2 separate regions of the Homo sapiens genome follow, and region 2 is linked to region 1. The links come from fine-mapping of genetic effects on gene expression. A gene starts in region 1. The other region holds a variant in brackets. All regions are shown on one strand. Distances are between the middles of the regions. Region 1 holds the start of HTD2 (hydroxyacyl-thioester dehydratase type 2). Region 2 overlaps LOC107986092 (a long non-coding RNA gene).

Region 1 (5,000 bases):
ATCCTCCGCTCTGAATTAATAAGACAGCATGAGAGAATTCAGGCAACTGGGAAGACACTTCATTTTCAGGGTTTGTTGCAGCAGGGTGAAAATTATCTATTGTTCCTTGAAGTTCAAAATACAGGAATTGCTCTGGTTTTCCTGGGCCACCTGGCAGGATACATTTGCCAGGCAGCTGGCTTACAGGAACCCTCTCCCATTACTGAGGGTTTCCTGGGGTGCCAGACACTTTATACCATCAACTCTTTTTCCCTCAACTCTGTGAGGTAGATGCTAATAATCTCTCCATGTGACAGATGAGGGAGGTAGGTAAGTGGCAGAGGATGCATTTGAAGCAAGTTCTGGCAGCTTCTGAAATCAAGCTTTTTTGAGAAAGATAATACTTGGGTCTGTGGGGTCTGTGTTTGCTTTCTCCACCTCTTCCCACATCTGGAACAAGCCCTGTCTCCTCTGAAGGAAGAAGAAAGTAGGAACCACAGAACTGGAGAGCATGGCCAAGGTTGAGGACTGAAGCTTCTGGAAACAACACAGTGGGATTTTGAGAAAATAATTGAGGAAGGAGATCCCCGCTGACTCAACTGTCCTGTGCAAGGCAACCCTTTGCCCCCCAACCCAAGCAAAACCAGCACATCCATTTATGAACAAATGCCTTCAGTAAATAGATGTTGGGTCACCATTGGGTACCAGGAACTGGGATGCAGTGGTGAGAAACACAGACAAGGCCCCATCCTCATGGGGGTTACACTAAAGTTTCCCTTCCCACTGCAGCCCCTCAATTGGTGGTAATACAGTGCAGTATGGAGAGCACTGGCTAGAATCAGACAGCCCATGCCACTGCTTATAACTGTGATCTTGAGCAAATAACTTAGCCTCTCTGTGCCTCAGTTTCTTTTCCTGTTGCCAGGCTAGAGTGCAGTGGTGTGATCTCGGCTTACTGCAACCTCTACCTCCCAGGTTCAAGCAATTCTCCTGCTTCAGCCTCCCGAGTAACTGGGATTACAGGTGTGCACCACCGTGCCCAGCTAATTTTTGTATTTTCAGTAGAGATGGGGGTCTCACCATGCTGGCCAGGCTGGTCTCGAATTCCTGGCCTCAAGTGATCTGCCCGCCTCAGCCTCCCAAAGTGCTGGAATTACAGGCATGAGCCACTGCGCCTGGCCTGTGCCTCAGTTTCTACCTCTAAAATGGTGATGATCATAGTAATAGCCATCTCAGGATTGTGTGAGGGTTCCATGAGATGACATATGTAAAATATTTTGCATAGTGCCTAGCACAAAGTAAGTCTTTACTTTGTGGGTCTTTCCAGGACGGCCTAGATAGAACACCTACTATGTGCTGGGAGTCACAAGGGACACTGAGAGTGGGTCCTATCTTTGGGGAGTGCTTGACATAGGAGATCTTGAGGAGAGGAGATGCTAGATATAATTTTGTAGGCTGGGCGCGGTGGCTCACGTCTGTAATCCCAACACTTTGGGAGGCGAGGTGGGTGGATTGCCTGAAGTCAGGAGTTTGAGACCTGCTTGGCTAACATAGTGAAACCCTGTCTCTACTAAAAATACAAAAATTAGGCCAGGCGCGGTGGCTCACGCCTGTAATCCCAACACTTTGGGAGGCCGAGGTGGACAGATCACGAGGTCAAGAGATTGAGACCATGCTGGCCAACATGGTGAAACCTCGTCTCGACTAAAAATACAAAAATTAGCTGGGCATGGTGGTGCATGCCTGTAGTCCCAGCTACTTGGGAGGCTGAGGCAGAAGAATCACTTGAAGGGAGGCGGAGGGTGCAGTGAGCCAAGATGGCGCCACTGCACTCCAGCCTGGGCGACAGAGCGAGACTCCATCTCAATAAATAAATTATAATATAATGAAAAAAATGTGTAGAATGACTCGGGCGCAGTTGCTCACGTCTGTAATCCCAGCACTTTGGGAGGCCAAGGTGGGCAGATCACTTGAGGCGAGGAGTTCGAGACCAGCCTGGCCAACATGGTGAAACCCCGTCTCTACTAAAAATACAAAAATTAGCCAGGCATGGTGGAGCATACCTGTAGTCCTAGCTACTCAGGAGGCTGAGGTGGGAGAATCGCTTGAGCCCTGGAGGCGGAGGTAGCAGTAAGCCAGATCGCGCCAGTGCACTCCAGCCTGGGCGACAGAGTGAAACTGTCTCAAAAAAACAACGAAAAAATTGTTGAATGAATGAATGAATGCATGAAGAAATGGATAACTATGAAGCACCGTCCAAGGCGGAAAAAACCCGCCCTAAACCGCACCCCAAGCAAATTGCACACACGGCTTTCCCGGAGTGGACACCAGAGGGCGCTGAGCTCGGCCGCTCTCAGCTCCGGATCAGGATTCGCGCCTGGGTCCTTAGGACGACGCCGCGTGGTGACGTCATATCCGCCTGGGCGTCACGCTTCGTGGGGCGGGACGAGGAGAAGCCAAACGTAAAGACACCAGGAGTTTCTCGGGCCCAGCTGTGGCTGCTGCCGGGGAGCCCCAAGCCTTGGCGGGTCCTTGCGGCGAATAGGAGTCTGGTCAGGCGTCAGGCTAGTCCGACGAAGAGTGGGTAGGTGGAAGCCTTCCAAAGAGCGGCGGTTGTCTGGGAGCCGTCTCAGTTGGCCGCGACCCGGGCGCATGCGCGGGGCGGGCGGTGCGCCTTGGGTAGCTTGTCCTCTCCGACCCCGGGCGCTGAGGGCCTCTGTACGGCGCCGCGTAGGGTCTCGGCCGCAGAACGTGGCCGAGAGGCCCGGGCGAGACTTCGGGACCGTGTCCTGAGCGCTCTCCATGCGCCCGGCGCGAGGTGAGCGCTAAATAGTGGTTGTTGAAAAATATTGAAAGCCACCCAAGTGCTCAGCAGTAAGGATATTGAGCTTTTTAAAGTGATTGATTTAGTCCAAAAATTGTACGTCGCACGCCCACTGTGCACGACCCAGTGTTTTAGGGCCTTGGGAAACAGCAGTGAACAAGATAGCAAGATTCTTGGAGTGGACTTTTGTTGGGGTGGGGAGGGGAAGTACAGATAAAGATAAACGAGTTACATAATTGTCATAGAAAAAGGCAAATGCTACGAAGAAGAAAGCAGGGACGGGGCATGGGGGTGGGGTGCGGTGTTAGCCGAGAAGGGCACTGGGCCAACCCGATTGAGATTTGAGCTAAGCCAGGAAGGGGGCAAGGGTGTGAGTCCGGTGGCTGCCTGGAGGAAGATCTTTCCCAGCATGGGGAAAAGCTAGAGCCGAGGCCCAGCGGTGGGAGCGAGACTGGCGCGTGAGAAAGAGCTAGGCTAGGCCTGTGTGGTGGCGGGGATTGAGCGGAGGGAGAATGGCAGGACATGAAGTCAGAGGTGTAGAGGGAGCAGTCCTGCAGGTGAGGCAGAGCCTTGCAGGCTGCTCTAAGGACTTTGGCCTTACTCTGGATAAAACGGGAACCATAGCAAGATTTTGAGCAGAGGAATGATGTAGCTTGAGTAGATGTTAATAGACTCACTGGCCGCCGTAGGGATGGAGAAGCGGGGGAGTAGGGAGAATCAGATTTATTACTAATAGGTCAGATTAGGAGCATCCCTGCGCAGCCACTAAAAAAGGCTGACTCTAGGCCGGGCGCGGTGGCTCATGCCTGTAATCCCAGCACTTTGAGGGGGCCGAGGTCGGCGGATCACTTGACGCCAGGAGTTCGAGACCAGCCTGGGCCAACATGGCGAAACCCCATTTGTACTAAAAATACAAAAGTTAGCTGGGCGTGATGACGTACGCCTGTAATCCCAGCTACTCAGGAGACTGAGGAGCGAGAATTGCTTCGACCCAAAGCACTCCAGCCTGGGCGACAGAGTGAGACTCCATCTCAAAACAAACAACAAGACTGACTTTAAAGATGACGATGACAGTAACTTCGTGAGCCCACATCTGTGGAGAGCCTGGTGAATATATTTAATACCAGTCTGTACAAAATAATTTCCCAGGTATCCTCTCCTTTAATGTCAGAACAGCCTGCAGAGGGCAGTGCTGTCATTTGTAAGTCTTTTTTTTTTTTTTTAATTGCAAAAAATACGTGACATAAAATTTATCGTAAGTAGCATTGAGTACATTCACAACGCTGTGCAGCCATCACCACTGTCCATCTCGTGAATGTTGTGTAAGTCTTCGTTTTACTGGCATCTAAGCCCTGGGTCTAATTTCACTCCCCTATTTTAGGCAGCCAGCTCCATCAAGGCAGTAACACTAAAAAACATTTATGTGCCAAGCAATGAAAGAAACAGATGAGGTTTCTTGTTCTCCCTGCCCTTCTAGTTAGGGGAGACTCTAGTGACTGGGAAAGAAGCATCAGGTAACTATTTCCGCTGTCCTGAAACCAAGGATTCTTTTGAATATATAGGCCTATACCACTATCACTTTTCTCTCATTTGAATACCTACTTTGTGTCATAGTATTACAGTATTTTTTGTTTGTTTGTTTTGGAGACAGGGTCATGCTCTGTCACCCAGGCTGGAGTGCAGTGGTACAATCACAGTGCACTGTATCCTTAACCTCCCAGACTCAAGCTATCCTCCCACCTCAGCCCCTGGAGTAGCTGGGACTACAGGCACACACTACCATGCCTGGTTAATTTAAGTTTTTTTGTTTTTTTTTTTAGTGACAGGGTCTCACTATGTTTCCCAGGCTGGTCTCAAACTCCTGGCCTCCCAAACTGTTGAGATTACAGGCATGAGCACCACGCCAGGCCCCAAAGTATTAATGTTTGTTGAATGGATTGGTAGATGTAGCTCCTTGACCCTGACTTCTTTTCTCCAGAGGTCATCATCTGGGAGTGGTTGGAACTGGGTCTAACCCAGAGTGGTTTTGAAATGCTGGTCCATAGCTCTGTGACCTTGGATAAGTCCCTTTCCTTGATTGGGCCTCAGTTTCCTGTTCCCTGTAGTGGGGGATCCATATATTAAACAAATAGACAGTGTTAAGAGATTGCATAACATGGGGGCTTAACTTAGAGAAGGGTGTCAGAGAAGACCTTCA
Region 2 (5,523 bases), 140 kb after region 1:
AGGATGATCAGAGGTCATTCTTATCGCCATCTTGGTTTTGGTGGGTTTTGGCTAGCTTCTTTCCTGCAACCTGTTTTATCAGCAAGGTCTTTATGACCTGTATCTTGTGCTGACCTCCTATCTCATCCTGTGACTGAGAATGCCCTAAATGTCTGGGAATCCAGTGTTAAGGGGGTGGTGGGGGGGCTTGTTCTTAGAGCTCCCAAGATGGTGGCACGCTGCTTCCAAGATGGCGGCAAGCCTCTTGTTCTCTGACCTGGGGTTCTTGGCCTCACGGATCCAAGGAATGGAATCTTGGACCATGTGGTGAGTGTTATAGCTCTATTAGAAGCCGTGGGTCACGGAAGAGAACCGTGGAACCCAGCAACTAGTGTTCAGCTCGATTAAGATGAACCCGGGCACTTAGCCGTGCAGGAACAATGGCAAGCCTTTAGCCCGATCGGGAGCGGCAATGGGTGCCTCGCTGGATCAGGAGCACAGCGGACACCCTGCCGGATCCAGAGGGGTGGAAGTCAGCAGCGGGTCTGCAACGGTGGCAAACAGCAGTGGTGGACGGTAAGCAAAAGCTCAGTTCGAGCCATAACAAACATGGACCAGAAGAGTGTGCAGTTGCAAGATTTAATAGAGTGCAAACAGAGTTCCCATAAAATGGGAGGGGACCCGAAGGGGGTTGCCGTTGCCAGCTTGAATACCTGGGTTTATATCCCGATTGTTGTCCCTCCCCCTGTGCTCTCAGGTGATAGATGATTGGCTATTTCTTTACCTCCTGTTTTTGCCTAATCAGCATTTTAGTGAGCTTTCTTTTCTACCTGATTTGTCAGGTGCGAGCTAAGTTGCAAGCCCCGTGTTTAAAAGTGGATGTGGTCACCTTCCCAGCTAGGCTTAGGGATTTTTAGTCGGCCTAGGAAATCCAGCTAGTCTTGTCTCTAACCAGTAGGTCTCAGCCTCATTTTACCCAGCTCCTATTCAAGATGGAGTTGCTCTGGTTCACATACCTCTGAGAGAGACATCAAGATGAAGGAATGATAGCCCAAAGAGAAGCCAGGATCTGGACCGTGGTCTAAACAAAGGACAGTATTCTTGAGATATATTTAATACAGAGATCCAGAAAAGCCAGGAACGCTGAGTCTGTGTAGCTAATCTGGAAGGCAATGTGAGTCACAGGCCCCAGCTGAGAATGTTCTTTTGAAATAATGACTGTGGACATTTTAGACACATTAGAAGTTTCATGCGCGTCTGTGTGAAGAGACCACCAAACAGGCTTTGTGTGAGCAATAAAGCTTTTAATCACCTGGGTGCAGGCGGGCTGAGTCCGAAAAGACAGTCAACGAAGGGAGATGGGGTGGGGCCGTTTTATAAGATTTGGGTAGGTAAAGGAAAGTTATAGTCAAAGGGGGGTTGTTCTCTGGCAGGCAGGAGTGGGGGTCACAAGTTGCTCAGCGGGAGAGGTTTTTGAGCCAGGATGAGCCAGGAGAAGGAATTTCACAAGGTAATGTCATCACTTAAGGCAAGGACCGACCATTTTCACTTATTTTGTGGTGGAATGGCATCAGTTAAAGCAGGAACAGGCCATTTAAATATCACTTCTTTTGTGATTCTTCAGTTACTTCAGGCCATCTGGATGTATACGTGCAGGTCACAGGGGATATGATGGCTTAGCTTGGGCTCAGAGGCCTGACAAGAAGTATATTCATTAGTACATGTGCCTTTCTTTCAAACTCAAACTGGCCAGTTTGGAAAGGCTGGGTGGAATTTTCTGTTTGAAAGCTGTTAACGAAAAAAGTCAAACTGTAAAATATTTAAAGAAGTTTATTCTGAGCCTTATAATTTAGTGACCTTGGCCCAGGACACAGCCTCAGGAGGTCCTGAGAACATGGGTTCAAAGTAGTTGGGTTACCATTTGGTTTTATACGTTTTACGGAGACAGGCAAAGACATACAGGCAAAGACATAAATCAACACATGTAAGGTATACATTGGTTGAGCCAGGAAAGGTGGGGCATCTCCAAGTCGGGGGTGGGATGCTTCCAGGTTATACATGGATGCAAAGATTTTCTGATTGGCAGTTGGTTGAAAAAGTTAAGCTTTGCCTGAAGAGTTGAAGTCAGCATAAAGAAATGCTTGAGTTAAGATAAGAGTGGTTGTGGAAGCCAAGGTTTTTGCTAAGTAGATGAAGCCTCTGAGTGGCAGGCTTCAGAGTAAATAGATGGTAAATGTCTCTTATCAGACCTTCAAAGGTGTCAGACTCTTAGTTAAATTTCTCCTGGATCAGGGAAAGACCTGGAAAAGGAAGGGGATTCTCTACAGAATGCAAATTTCCCCAAGGCAAGGCTTTGCAGGGCCATTCCAAAATATGCCAAATAAACATATTTTAGGGTAAAATACTTGCATTTCCTTTAGACCCTGTTATCTGTCATGTGATGGTATACCAGAGTCAGGTTGGAATTTGGTATCTTACTGCTATAAAGAGTCTGTTTTGTCAGTCTTAAGAAATGTATTTTAATGTTAATGCTGGTCAGTGGCACCTAAACTCCAAAGCGAGGAAAGTATACTGAGGGTATCCTACCTGCCTTCCCATCTAGTGGCCTGAACTTGTTTTTCAGGTTGTCTTGGGGAATCCCCTTGGCCAAGGGGGTGAGGGTCCATTCAGTTGATTGAGGGTCTTATAATTTTATTTTTAGTTTACAGAGTAAAAAACACAAAAGGTCAAAGTGGTGAATTTTAAATCCATAATCTTTTAAAAATGACTGCATCTCTATGCTCACTAGATTTTCCTAAAAGAGATTTCAAGGTGTAAATTGGCCAACTAGTCTTCTCTCGGAACTAAATCTTTTCAGGGTTACACGGAATATTTGCCCTTAAGAACATTTTGGGTTCTTTGTCAGTTGTCAGAAAGTCCTTCATTCAAGGTTTTTGGGCCGGGTGCAGTGGCTCACGCCTGTAATCTCAGCACTTTGGAAGGCCAAGGCAGGAGGATGGC[C/T]TGAGGCCAGGAGTTTGAGAGCAGCCTGGGCAACATAGTGAGACCTCATCTCTATTAAAAATAAAAATAATAATAAGATTTTCTGTATACCTTTTCCCAGTTATAATATATAGCCACAGTTATCAAAACCCAGTAACTGACTTTGGTACAACTATACTGTTAACTCCAGGAGAGACTTTATTCAGATTTCATCAGTTTGTATATGTATTTGTGTGTGTGTGTATGTGTGTGTGTGTGTGTGTGTGTGTGTGTGTAGTACTGTAGAGTTTTATCACATGTACATTTTCATGTAGCTACCACCACAATCAGAATACAGAATTGTTCCCTCGCCATAAAGAAACTTCCTTGTTACCTCACAGTCACATCTACCCCAACTCCTAACTCCTGGCTACCACTGATCTATTCTCAAGTACTATAATTTGTTATTTCAAGAATGTTCAATATGTATGATTTCAAGAATCATACGATACGTAGCTCTTTGAGATTGGTTCTTGTCATCAACTGACATGCCCTCAAGATCCATTCAAATTATGTATCAATTTTTTCCTTTTTTTTTTTTTTAATGAGACAGAGTTTCGCTCTGTTGCCCAGGCTGGAGTGCAATGGCATCATCTTGGCTCACTGCAATCTCCACCTCCCAAGTTCAAGCGATTCTCCCGCCTCGGCCTCCCAAGTAGCTGGGACTATAGCCACGTGCCACCACGCTCACCTAATTTCTGTATTTTTAGTAGAGACGGGGTTTCACCATGTTGGCCAGGCTGGTCTCGAACTCCTGACCTCAAGTGATCCACCTGCCTCAGCCTTCCAAAGTGCTGGAATTACGGGCGTGAGCTACTGTGCCTGGCCAAATTTTGTTTTTGTTTTTGTTTTATTGCTAAATTGTTGTATGGCTGCATTAATTTACCCTCTCACCCATTGAAGGACATTTGGGCTATATCCAGTTTTAGCTATTACCAATAACGCTGTTATCAACATTGGTTGTAGGAAAACAGCCTGCTGCATGGCAAGATTACACCATTTTGAAGCGAAACTGCTGTGATGACTGATGTCTGCATACCAACTCGTTCCCATTCCCACAACAAGGTCAAGAAACAATGCCCGTAGCATCCAACTCCTCATAGAGAAACAATGCCTGTACATAGATAACCCCTCATAAAGATACTTATCTAACTTCCCCAGTGGTCCCTAGTTGTTTCATAAGAGGGTCTGAGACATGACCAGCTGCACATGTTTTACCAAAAACAGCTTGCTAATTAAAGAATATTTTCCAGAAAGAAGGTTGGTTGTGGGCATCCACCATCACTTGGCTGCCAGAGATGCCACTTCTGTTTGTAAGTCCCTACTAAATGTTTCCTTCTGAGAAACTGGATTTTTCACCCTTTGTCTTCAGCCTCTCACCTCCCTTTGTCTTTGGGGGTTTACGTAGACCTGCTTACCACAGAACATTGACTTATAGGTTTAGGGGTGAGCATCAGCTTTCATTTCTGCAGGAAATCGTAGATTGTATGATTGTATGGTAATTGTATGATTGTAATGGTATGTGTATGTTTAAATTTTCAGAATATGCCAAACTCTTTTTCCAGAGTGGCTGTGTCATTTATGTTATGTCCCCAGTGCATGAGACATCTGGATCCTTTCCAGCACTTGGTAATATTATTAGTATTATTATTGGAGAGAGGGTTTTACTATGTCACCCAGGCTGGAGTGCAGTGGCACAATCACAGATCCTTGCAGCCTTGCTGTCTGGGCTTAAGCGATCCTCCCACCTCAGCTTCCCAAATAGCTGAGACCACAGGTGTGCGCCAGCACACCTGGTGAATTTTATTTTATTTTTGTAGAGACAGGGGTCTTGTCATGTTGCTTGGACTGGTCTCGAACTCCTGTCCTCAAATGATCCTTGCACCTTGGCCTCCCAAAGTGCTGGGATTATAGACATGAGCCATTACCACTGTGCCCAGCCCGATCATCTTTCCATGTGCTGACTTGCCATCCATCTTTGGTGACAGGTCATCCTCTGTGGTGAAAGTGTGTGTTTACATCTTTTGACCATATTCTAATTAGATTGTGTTTTAAAATTGTGATAAAATGTGCATAACATAAAATTTACCGTTTTTAGTTGTGCAGTTCTGTGGCACTAAGCACATTCACACTGTTTAGCCACACCACCATCCATCTCCAGAACTGTTTTATCTTCCCCAGCTAAAAGTCTACCAATAAACAATAACTTCATTCTCCCCTCCCGCCACTGTTGGGAAAAAGCTGAGTGTAGGGAGGGAAACTGAGGCAGGGCTTGCATAGTGTCCTTTGGAATGTGTCTAGACTTGCTGGCTGCTTGCTTCTAGCCCTCCTAGGCTCCTGTTCCCATTATCTCAAGTAGCAGGACATGTTCCATATAAATGCTAAACCATCACAGCTGTAAATCATGTGCTTAATGGAACATGTGGAGGTGTTGACCTCCACAGTCTCAACACCTGTTTCTTTGTTGGATTACCAATAAATACCGTGGGCTCTCAGAGCTCGGGGCCTTCGCAGCCTCCATACATA

Evidence for each region. PIP is the estimated chance that this variant, and not a neighbour inherited with it, causes the effect.
Region 2: its variant is the best candidate, but not a certain one, in a credible set for the expression of HTD2 in blood mononuclear cells (TOPMed, PIP 0.59).

The regions. Positions count from the first base shown.
Region 1 is chr3:58,303,855-58,308,854 of GRCh38, forward strand. HTD2 (hydroxyacyl-thioester dehydratase type 2) reads left to right here and starts at 2,666. Exons shown (of 5, transcript NM_001348712.2): 1 at 2,666-2,797. It overlaps RPP14 (ribonuclease P/MRP subunit p14), which reads left to right and starts at 2,391. Exons shown (of 6, transcript NM_007042.6): 1 at 2,391-2,563. RefSeq lists enhancers at 2,177-2,256, 2,447-2,706, 2,827-2,956.
Region 2 is chr3:58,439,691-58,445,213 of GRCh38, forward strand. All of the region lies in intron 1 of LOC107986092 (a long non-coding RNA gene), which reads left to right. Among named protein-coding and RNA genes, the nearest start is that of PDHB, 8.6 kb to the left of the region's middle. The variant C/T (reference allele first, on the strand shown) is at 2,980.